Linked DNA regions of Homo sapiens: region 1 is linked to region 2. Evidence: fine-mapped expression QTL. A gene starts in region 2. The other region holds a variant in brackets. All regions are shown on one strand. Distances are between the middles of the regions. Region 1 overlaps TBL1X (transducin beta like 1 X-linked). Region 2 holds the start of TBL1X (transducin beta like 1 X-linked).

Region 1 (5,371 bases), 250 kb after region 2:
CTTAAAGCCCACTTTAATCTTTCTCCAAGTATAAAAATACTTATCTGTAATACTGCCGACACACACCTTTCTCAGTTCATGGAACACCACCCTTTAAGGGGCCCAATTGAGCAGAGGATTTGGGACAGCCCTCCTGGTCTCGGTGTTCAGATTTCTCCTGCCTGTCACCATAGTGAATCATGAGTGAAGGCTTATTCGACTCTTTCTCTCTTTTTTATTTTTTAAAATTAATTTTTGTAGAGACGAAGTCTCACTGTGTTGCCCAGGCTAGTCTTGAACTCTTGGGCTCAATCCGTCCTCCCGCCTCGGCCTCCCAAAGTGCTGGGATTACAGGGTGAGCCACCTCGCCTGGCCTTATTCAACTCTTTCAAAGGCCTCAACTTCCCCTACCTCTTAGATTTGTCAAGTTAATGCTGTTTTAAACCGGAAACCAATGGTCTGTGGTGTTTTCCATTACATGTATATTATGCATTTCTTCTTTCAAATGTCCAAAAATACGTACATTTTAATGTCATGGCATATTATTACATTTAATCATGAATTACAGTCAATTTAATTGCTACTGGGGTGGGTGTATTCATTATGTTGTATTCATTCAGGTCCTCCAAAGAACAGACACCAGAACAGGATTAGATGGGCGAGAGATTTATTGGGGGAAAGAGCTGTGATGGAAACAGGGAGGAAGGTAGGGGGAAGGGAGAATTCAGACCATAAGGCCAGTCTGACCCTGGGAAGGAGACGGGAAGGGTAGGAAGAGTCAGGGATGGCCCTTACAGGTCTGTAGAAAGTTTTGGTCGTGCTGATGGAGAGTCCATGAGCCACTTACCCACCAGATGAGTCTGAGTCTCAGCAGGTGACTGCCATGGTCTCCCGCCTCCATCAGTCCTCAGCTGGGTGCAGCCTCAGAATCCACGCAAATGTGGCAGATTCCGCAGGCATAAGTAATCAGGTTCACTCCTCGTGGTGGGAAGTCCTAGAGGCACATCTCCATGGCCCCCAGAGTCCTTACTGAAAACCCTTAAATTTCACCATGCTTGAAAATGTTCATGACGAAACGTCAGGGCCGGAGGAGCGCACATTCCACACCTGCATCTGTCGCAGGCGCCCCTTGCGTTGTAAGTGACAGCTGCTTTGCTTTGCAGAGTGGAAATCTTGTCCACAGCTACCGAGGCACTGGCGGCATCTTCGAGGTGTGCTGGAACGCCCGAGGAGACAAAGTGGGTGCCAGCGCGTCCGACGGCTCTGTAAGCAACACCTCTGGTTTGCTGGGGAGTGGGGTGTTGGGGGCAGCTGATGCCTAAGTGAGCTTCCAGGGCGTGTGCAGCATTCGTGTCCTGAAGGGCCTAGCCCAGTGCCAAAGGAAGCTTCTGGGCTGGATCCCATCGGAGTTGGTACCACATCTGGGAATGGCCTTCTCCTTGTCCCTTCCAGAGTGTCCTTCTAGTCAACATTTTCTCAGTCAAATTGGTGGTTCTCAACCAGGGTGATTCTGCACCTCTAAGGACATTAGACAATATCTGGAGCCATTTTAGGTTGTCACTACAGTCATGTGTCGCTTAATGACGGGAACGTTTTGGGAAATGTGTCATTAGGCACTTTTATCTTTGTCTGAACATCATAGAGTGACTGACACAAACCTAGATGATAATACCTGTCCCACACCGAGGCTGTGTGGTACAGCCTATTGCTCCCAGGCTACAAACCTGGACAGCGGGTGACCATACTGATTCCTGTAGGCAACCAGAACACAATGGTAAGCATTTGTGCGTCCGGATCTATCTAAACATAGAAAAGGTTCAGCAGATATATGGTTATAATCTTACAGGACCACTGCGGTCTGTGCGGTGCGTTGTTGCTGGAAACGTCATTATGTGACGCGTGACTGTGCTTAGATGAGGATGCTGCTAAACCTCCTACTGTGCACAGGGTGGCCACAATTGTCACCCATGCTGTGGCTGAGAAGCCCGGGCCTCTGGTGGCCATCCTGCAGGTCTCCTGGGCCCTCTTCTCTTCCCATGGGGCATCTGGATTTCTTATTTTCCCCTGGACTTGAGGTTGCCCTGACCTCTGGGGCAAGCGGCCGTTCTGGCTGAACGGCCAAGGGTCAGAGTAGTCCCCAAATGTTGTCAGAGGCTGTGTACTTGGGCTCGTATTGTCATCTGCCCCACGATTGCAGGTGTCCCTTCTGGGACCTCTGCCACTCTGTTAATTCCTATCATTACCCTTAACCTGGCCTTTCTGCTCTGTGCTGTTTGCTTCAGTTTGCTCGGTCCGATGTCCAGATGCCAGTCTGTTATGAGAGCTTCTCTGACCCTTCATGACGATGTTCCAATAAACTTTACTGACAAACATCGGTGGAGGGCTAGATTGGGCGTGGGGGCCGTAGCTTGCCGACTTCTCACTCTAAAGGCATCTTTGTATTGTCTCTCAAGATGACAGGTGCTTTATCTTTCCTTCCAGGTGTGTGTTTTGGATCTGCGGAAGTAACCACAAAATATTATCGAAAAAAGAAAAGAATTCTAATGACCAGCCGTGAATGTGTAGGGTTGCAGCTCTATTCTCCAAAACTGTAGGAACTTGACTTGCGTTAGAGTGTACTCTGAAACCAACTCGTCTCTGGCCGCAGGAGTCTATATGTTTTCGTAATCTTCATCAAGAAGTTTTTAAAAGGCAAGCAAAAACAGAAGCAAATCATATCAAACGGGGATAGAATGGTTTCCACTGAGGACATTCAGCCTGGGAAGGAGGAAGTCACCAGCTCGAGGCGTGTGGATTGGTTTCCACCCGGAACAGGCTCTGTGATGGCTGAATGGAAAGAAACGTAAAAAGCTGTGCCAAAAAAAAAGCAAAATGCTGTGATAAACCAAACAGGGAAGGGGGAAAAACCCTCCTCCTTGGGATTTTTTTTTTTTGTTTTCCCTAACAATTTGGACACTAC[A/G]ATTGCTCTCACAAAGGAGGTTCAAAGACCAGTTTGTACCGATGAAACGCGCAACTTTGTAATCCCAACACTTTCTATTTTCTAGAATCTTCTTTGTTCATTGGGTGGTTTTTCAGTCGGCTGGAATTCTATCTTCTGGGGGCCTTCCGTCTGAGATGGAAGCTGTCTTGGGCTTGTTGTCTCTTCCTTCTGTTGCTCCCTGCCCCTCCCCCTGCCTTTCCACTCTGTCTGGTGAGCTCTGCTTTTTCAGTGCACCATCAAGAGATGCAGCCCCGTGGACATGAAGACACAATCTCCCACGGACAGCTTTCCCCCTTCCGCCCTCTCCCACCCTCTCCTCCCCTTGCGCTCGCGCTCGCGCTCGCTTTCTCACTGGCGTGCTCTCTTTCTCTCTCTCTCTCCCTCTGTACCTTTCTCATAGTTGCTTCAGATCTTAGGTCTCAAGGGCACTTTGGCGCGTAGTAAGTGCTTTATGTAAGAAGGCAGGGCAGGGGGGCTTTTTACAGGAGAAAAAAAAATGACTTATAAGAGAAAGAGCCTGGAGTATTTTTGGAAAAAAAAATAATATTTTTATGTTAAAACAATTTTAAAATCTTAAAATGGCCATCAGACATAGAGAGCTTTGTGTGATTCATGTTTTAAAAAGAACCGAAGAAGCCACAGGCAGGGCCTGAGGGAGCCCCTGGCTTTCCCCTCAGCCTCAGGAAAGGTGGTCAGGAAAACTCTGGCTGGACAAGGGTCAGTCTTCGGGGTCAGCAGCGAGATTGCTCTGCAGCCAGTGAGGGAGGTCCCCGCCATGCCGGCTGGAAGAAGAACCTCGCATCTTTTGGTGTGTATGCACCTTGGCAGCCAGCAGGAAAGCAGCGAAGAGCCGCGCGCCCTCTGGCCTCAAGGGAGCATTGGCAGAACCATAAGGTACTGCAGAAGCCGTCGAAACCGACTGCTCGGCTGGATTAGGCGTGTTGGCTACATCTTTCCCACAACCGTATAACGACCGATGGTCATTTCTCCAAGAGCAGGCTTGGCGAGTCCTTGCAGAGCTGACATAGAGGCGCCCGCATGTCACTTAGTCTAACGCTGACAGAAATGAATGCAGAAGGAAGATTTTCAGTCCTGAACGTGAATTATAGAGGTAGAACGTCGCTAATAATTTCTGCCATCTTTATAATTTCTTTGTCTCACAGAAGACTAGGAGAAAGATCTTTTTTAAATAATCTTTTTGCTGTTTTTAAAAAATTAAACAAGGCTTTGTGTTCCTAGAAGAGCTTCATTTCAGTGAATCTGGTGACCTCCATCTGCTTGCTGTCATAACCCGACACGGACTTATTTTTGTCATTAGCAAGGGGGAAAAGGCCAAAGGACAAGGGCCTCTTCTCCCATTGGTTTTCCTGTGGGCAGAAGGGCTGAGGAAGATGGCCCAGCCCGTGGGGGCTGCTGGGTCACCAGCAGTGGGTAGGGTGCAATCTGGTGTGTGTTCCAGCAGTGAGACGGTGTTATTGTGAAGGTGGCATTCATCTGCGGAGCCAAAACCCAGCCATCGGGGAAGGGTCAGGGCTTCTGTGGAACTTGGAACGTGCCAGGACCACCTGCAAAAGCCAGGGTGCGTTGATCATTCTCAGATCATTGATTGGCCTCCACTTGGGTATGTGAATTATTCATGTCCCAGAAGACCAAAAAGTGCTCTGGTTCTGAGATGAGTATTTTATTCGTGTTCTGTTTCCGAAACACTTAGCAAAGAAGGTCACAGTGATGTGGAGTCGCCGCACCCATCTTTGAAGATAGCCAGTGTCCCTGGATGAGGTGATGATTTCCCGTCCCAAGGACTCTGTGAAGTTTAGAGTACAGTTTGTTGGGGTCCAAAAGACACCATCTCTACCCCACCCAAATAAAAATGCACTCATCTCTGTAGAACATCTGCTGTCAAAGGCCAGCCTGTCGTTAGGGCATGGCTTATGCTTGACAAACCAGTAACAACTGTGGGATGGCGATGGTGGGATGTGTCGCAAGCAATTCACTAGACAATCTTCACATGAATGTCGGTAGCCAGGGTCTCTCCCGAGGGATGGCTTTAGTCTTGATGAATGTGAACCATGTCGGAATTGTTAGGTAGAAACCTGGGCTGGGAGGCCTCGGACCCCAGGCTCCATCCCTGGCTTCCCCAGCCTGCGGCCGCAAGCAAAACCAAGCGCGAGATGCAGCTAGCACCCTTCATATCCATCCCCGTTCTCAGCGGGACAACACCATGGACAGCCGTTTTCAGAGCCTCCAGCATTTGCACACCACTACTCACCCTCTCTGCTGCTGGCATGTTGGTAGAGTCATCCCTGTAATCAAGAAATGGCCTGTGGAATGTTATTGTTCAACGTTGTTTACAGCTCTTAAAACATGGTGAGGAATGCCTAAGTCTTAGTGACCAAACGTGACCTTGAAAGC
Region 2 (5,371 bases):
TGCGTCCGCGTAAAGCCCAGAGCTGTAATGATGTCAACTTGTTATTTACTTTCCAAATCTGAATGACTGAGCAAGGCGAAAGGAGAATCAATCAACCACAATGTGACCCTACAGGCGGAAAAAACGCAGCACTCCCACCAGCAGGCGGTGGGGGAAGGGAAGCACGTGTAGCCAGGGCAGGGTTGCATCATGAGCTCGTTCGGGTTTTCTATTGCACCCTTCGTTTTTCTATTGCATGTAATACCTCAGCATCAGTCTGCACAAGCCCAGGGAGCCCAGGAGCAACGAAGGGCAGGCTCAAGGGAAGGCCCCACCATGTCCTTCTGGGGGGCCTTGAATGGCAACTGATACATAATAAGACACAATCTATTCTGCTGATTCACAATTATGGAGACTGTGTAAGTGTGTATTTTTTTATTGATGTCCTCTAATGATGGTGTAGCAACAGTCGTTTTGCATCATTGACGTTTTACAGCAATATTTTGCAGGGTAATTTTGAGGTCCGCCGTTTTGGTGGAGGACCGGCCTCTTAAAAACTCACCTCCGGCCGGGCACGGTGGCTCACGCCTGTAATCCCAGCACTTTGGGAGGCCGAGGCCGGCGGATTGCCTGAGGTCAGGAGTTCAGACCAGTCTGGCCAATATGGTGAAACCCCGTCTCTACTAAAAATACAAAAAAAATTAGCTGGGCGTGGTGGCATGCGCCTGTAATCCCAGCTACTCGGGAGGCTGAGGCAGGGGAATTGCTTGAACCAGGGTGGTGGAGGTTGCAATGAGCCGACAGCGCGCCACTGCACTCCAGCTTGGGCGACAGAGCGAGACTCCTCAGAAAAACAAAAACAAAAACAAAAAAACAAAAACCTCACCTTAGGTCCCCCTCCCCCTACAACCAGAACAACAAATGGTCTAGAGTTCGAGGAAGAGCAAGTGAGGTTATAGTTTAGATTGCTGAGTGTACCGGGCTCTTAGCACGAAGCTCATTATATAGTAAAGGAAGGGGCAAGAATATTTGAAAAATATTCAACGAGGCTGACCCCAGAGGTGCTGGGGAGGGGGAGTGGAGATCTGTTTAACTGAATTAAGGCTGCGAGTGGTTGGGAGTAGCCTACGTGGAGGGGAGGAAGGAGCGCTGGGGACTTAGGTACACCGGGGCCAGGCCGTGTAAGCCATTGCAACATAAAGCACTTTGCAAGGGCCAGAGGGCTGATGCCTGGGGGGTTGGGGTGGGAGTGATGAGGCCCGAGTGCCCAGGTCCCCCCAACCTCCTCAGCCCCCACACCCGAGTTCCTGGCGCCTATGCCTGTGTGTCTGAGTTTGTCCCTAAGCATTTCTGGCTCTTCTTGGGAGGTGTTTTGCAAAGGTCGAGGCTCCGCCGGAACCCCCACTTTTTGAGCTGGGGTAAAGACTACTGGGGTGTCTTCTAAGACGCCGATTTTGAGGGAGATTCACCATCGGGCAGGTGGCAGGGGGTTCTGTTGGGGCAGCCGGGTGGCTTCCTTTTTGGGGTGGGGGAGGGTAACACTTTAGCAGTGATCGAGGTTCCCCTGCCCCCTAGAAACTGAGGGGGTGGCCGAGGTTCCCGTCCCCTCGAGGCAGTCGTGGAAAGGCTGGGTTTGGGATGTGATGGGGGTAGCCCTGGGGTCCTCTCAGTCCCACGGAGGCCACGGGGAAGGGACCGGGACCAGAGCAACTAGGGAGAGGCCCGGGTTCCCCTCACCCACCCTAGGCGTGGGGGAGCGGGGCGGGCTTGGTAGGGACGCTGGTCCCCCGACCGTGGGACAGGGGCTGGGTTGGGACGCGGGTCCCCACTAGGAGCCGCGGGGGAGGGGCAGGGCCGGAGTCCCTACCCTCGTAGGGGAGGGGCTGGTTCGGGACGCGGCTCCCCCGGGGCGCAGGGGCGGGGCCGGGTGGTACGCCGGGTCCCCTCCCACGGCCGTGAGGGAGGGGCCGGCGGCGGGGGCGGACCCCTGGCGGTCCTCCTGGCTGGGGTCCGCGCGCTCGCGGCAGCTCCCCGTGGAGGTCACTGTCCGTGCCAGTCCCTCCCGCTGTCCCGCCCTCTCCCGCTGCCGCCGCCGCCGCCGCCGCGCCCGCCTCAGCGCCCCCACTCCGCGCTTGGGAGCGAGGAGCCGCCAGCGCCCCCGCCCCGCCGCCGCCGCAGCGCCCTCAGGCCGCCATTCGCCACCGAAACTTTCCAGCGCCCGCGCTCTCTCCGGGACTCGGCGGCGGCGGGGCGGGGGCGGCCCGGGGGCGGCGCGCGGCTGCTCCGGGGCGCCGGGCCCTCTTCGGCCGCCGCACGGCCGGGACTCGGAGGCTGCCGGCTGGAGGGAGGTTCGGAGCGCGGCCGGGCGCGCGGCGCCGCCACAAGTTGCGCTGCTCGCGACGAGGTGAGTGCGCAGGGCTCGGCGGGCCGGGCGCGGGGTCCGCAAACTTCTGCGGGGAGGCGGGTCCCGCGCTGACCCTCCAGGGTCCGGCCGGCGGCTCGGGGCGCCCGAACGCTCCACCCGCCCCTGGAACTCCTGTAGGTGCAGGTCGCCAACTGTCCCCGCGGCGCTCGGACTGGGGTGCGGCGCGCTCCCAGGAGCCTGAACAATACCCCGAGGTGGCCGCTCCCCGAAGTGCCGGCGCGCCTTGCGGGGAGAGACGGAGGTCGGCGGGGGGCTCCTTTGTTTTGGGGAGGGGGAAGTGGCCGGTAAGTTTAGGGAAGCGCTCGGCTTTTCCTCCGGTGCCCCTTTGTCTGCCGATTCAGGGGCTTGCTGGGCAAACCTGCGCCACCGCGGGCTCCGGGGACCGGGGTGGAGGGCGGTGGCGGGATTTCCCCGCTGTTGGGGAGAAGAGCCCCATTCATACCCGGGACGCGGGCCGGCCCTCCCGGACCCGGGTGGAAGCGCAGCCTCGCGGAGTGGGGCAAGCGGCGGGCGAGGTGGCGCGGGCCCCGTGTCTGCTCAGTTTCTGACGCGCAGAAACTGTCAAGGAAGTCGGGAGCCCCAGTCCTCCGCCCATCTCCCCGGCCTGAGCGCACGGCTGGGCTGGGGGCACCCTTGGCCCGTCGAGGGTCTGCAGAGCGCCGCCCGGGGAGAGCGCAGACCTGTTGCTGCTCCTGGGCTCTGACGGGGCGGGTGGGGTGGGTCTCGCAGATCCTGGGCCCCGGCCTTGCTATCCAGGGGGACCTTCCCTAACGATGGGACCGGTGCTCGGAGTGGAGTATGGGGAGTGCGCCTTCGGGAGTCGGCGCTGGCCGGATATGTGACAACTGTGGGTCGCTGGAGGCCCGCCTGCGCTGGGATAGGGCCTGGACTTCACGTGCGTCGCCTGTGTTCCGTCAGACCGGGGCCGGGGCTCGCTCCCTGCAAGGCCTCGTGTTCCCCCAGCCAGCTGCGTTGGACGTTCCACAAAGGTAGGGACTGACGTTTATTCTCGAGTCAGTGATGTTCTGGAGCAAAACCTAAAAAGAAACAAAAACCTACCCTCTATTGTATTTGCAACTGTTTCTGCTTTGCATTGTCATGTGTGGTTTGACCTGCCTTTTGGATGTTTTCCTCTCCTGAAACATCGCCCAGTCCCTGGTTTAACCTGGAAGGCGAGGGGGAAGGAAGGCAACCTCCCTGCTAAGGTTCCAGGCAGTGGCTTTGGTGTTGGAAGTGGCACTTGACGATTTTATGAAAAGTTTACAAGTCCTTCCTAGAAAAGATGTAATTAGGAAAAATAAAATACAGAAGAACGTTGAGTATGACGCGTTTATTTTAAAGGGTAGTCCTGTCTCAAATGTGCTGCACATTTTTGTGGAAAGCCACCAAGCTGGGTAACTAATGCAAACAACAAAAGTTGTTCATCACTGGATCACCGGCCCTTAAGGCGATTCCAGCCCTTAGTAGAACACACACCTGTAGGGCAAATATGGAGATTTGTGGTGTAGTGCTGCCACCCTCGCTCCCCAACTCTCAGGCATTTTGCCCCTTTACCTCAGAGAACTTCTCTCTGTCAGTGGTTTTAAAGAGGAAACAGTTTGCAAAAATAACTTTATTGTAGACATACTTAGAAGTGAATGTTTCAATTTCTGGAGTTTTCCCATCAATTATATCAGTACCACTGGTTCTGTACAACATCATCTTAGTTAGAAGATTTTTTTTCACCTTTTAAGGTGACGAACAGAGGCGGGAAAATGGTCCCTGCAGAGGGAGGCCATCTCCAGCAGGTCCCGAGGGTCAGGAATTCAGATTATCCGATCTACTCCTGCTGGATAGGAGCACACCTCCGCTAGAACCTGGGTCCGGCCCCCTCCCAGTTTTCTGCAGGGCGTCCAGATTCCGGTGCTCTGCCCCGCAGCAGTGCCCTGTGGGCCTCCTGGCTTAGCTGATCAGCACAGCTTCTCTGCCCAGCGAGGCAGGACCATCCTCCCACTGCTTTCCTGATGCCTTGGATTTGCTTTTTTTCCTCCCTTAGGAAAAGCAAAAAAACCTAATATGCTACATCCGAGAAGTTGTTAATCTTTCACTACCACATGCATTGAAAAATCAGTTCCACCCAGGAAGCAACACTAAAGGCATATTGTAAACACTTTTTTTTTTTTAGTTGGAAAGATAAACTTTTTTCCCCCATAACTATTTTTAGTTAGCCGGAGACTGGACTCGAGTTTTTACCTCCGGTCTTGCCCCCTCCACTCCCGCCCTCACTTTCTGTGGGGCTCGACCACATGGACCATGCTGGCCAGACTGGCAAACATGAAACCCACCAGAACCAAAAGAAAAGCTGGATATGGGAAGGGGCCGAAGAAGTCCACATGTTTCTAAAGGGCAAAGAGCCTAGGCTGAGGAGAGACGTTTCAGATCTCCAGGGGAGAAAGACAGCCGTTAAGGAGTCCGCCGGGCTGCTGCCTGCCTGGCCAGCGGGAGCCTGACTTCAGATGCCTGCGCCTCCCAAGCTGGCCCCCTCCCACACAGCCATCGCCATCCAGTATTTAGGGAGAATCCACCGCATGCCTGAAGGTTGCAGAAGTGAATTGGAAACCGTTACAAATGGAATTGGAACAAATTTAAAGTTAAGATGGAAGAGAGAATATGTTGAGTTTTCAGAGGAAGTCGGGTACTGCTTCCTTTTCTTGTCTAGGTTTGTTCTTGTCCGATGGGATCAGAGAGATTTGAGATGGGGCATGATAGGCGGCGGGTTCAGGAGAAAGGGAAGCTTTAGAAATGAAGGTAGAAAAGATGCTTGCTTATTGGAACAGTATTTTCAACGTTGAGCTCTGGAATGTTGCAGCCAACTAATGGTTCTCATTTGGGACAGTTTTGTCCCCCACTTTTGAAGGGAGCATTTGCCAATGTCTGGAGACATTTCCCTTCCTGCAACTGTTAAATTAGCAAACAGGTTGAGCCAGC

What was found. PIP is the estimated chance that this variant, and not a neighbour inherited with it, causes the effect.
Region 1: its variant is fine-mapped to the expression of TBL1X in whole blood (TOPMed, PIP above 0.99). The same link has a PIP of 0.9 or more in blood mononuclear cells and monocytes.

Annotation. Positions count from the first base shown.
Region 1 is chrX:9,713,760-9,719,130 of GRCh38, forward strand. It overlaps TBL1X (transducin beta like 1 X-linked), which reads left to right. Exons shown (of 18, transcript NM_005647.4): 17 at 1,143-1,244; 18 at 2,461-5,371. The coding sequence ends at 2,487. Among named protein-coding and RNA genes, the nearest start is that of GPR143, 49 kb to the right of the region's middle. The variant A/G (reference allele first, on the strand shown) is at 2,939.
Region 2 is chrX:9,463,065-9,468,435 of GRCh38, forward strand. TBL1X (transducin beta like 1 X-linked) reads left to right here and starts at 1,994. Exons shown (of 18, transcript NM_005647.4): 1 at 1,994-2,383. RefSeq lists enhancers at 1-219, 594-1,422, 1,250-1,449 and silencers at 1,680-2,259, 2,380-2,519, 2,820-2,969.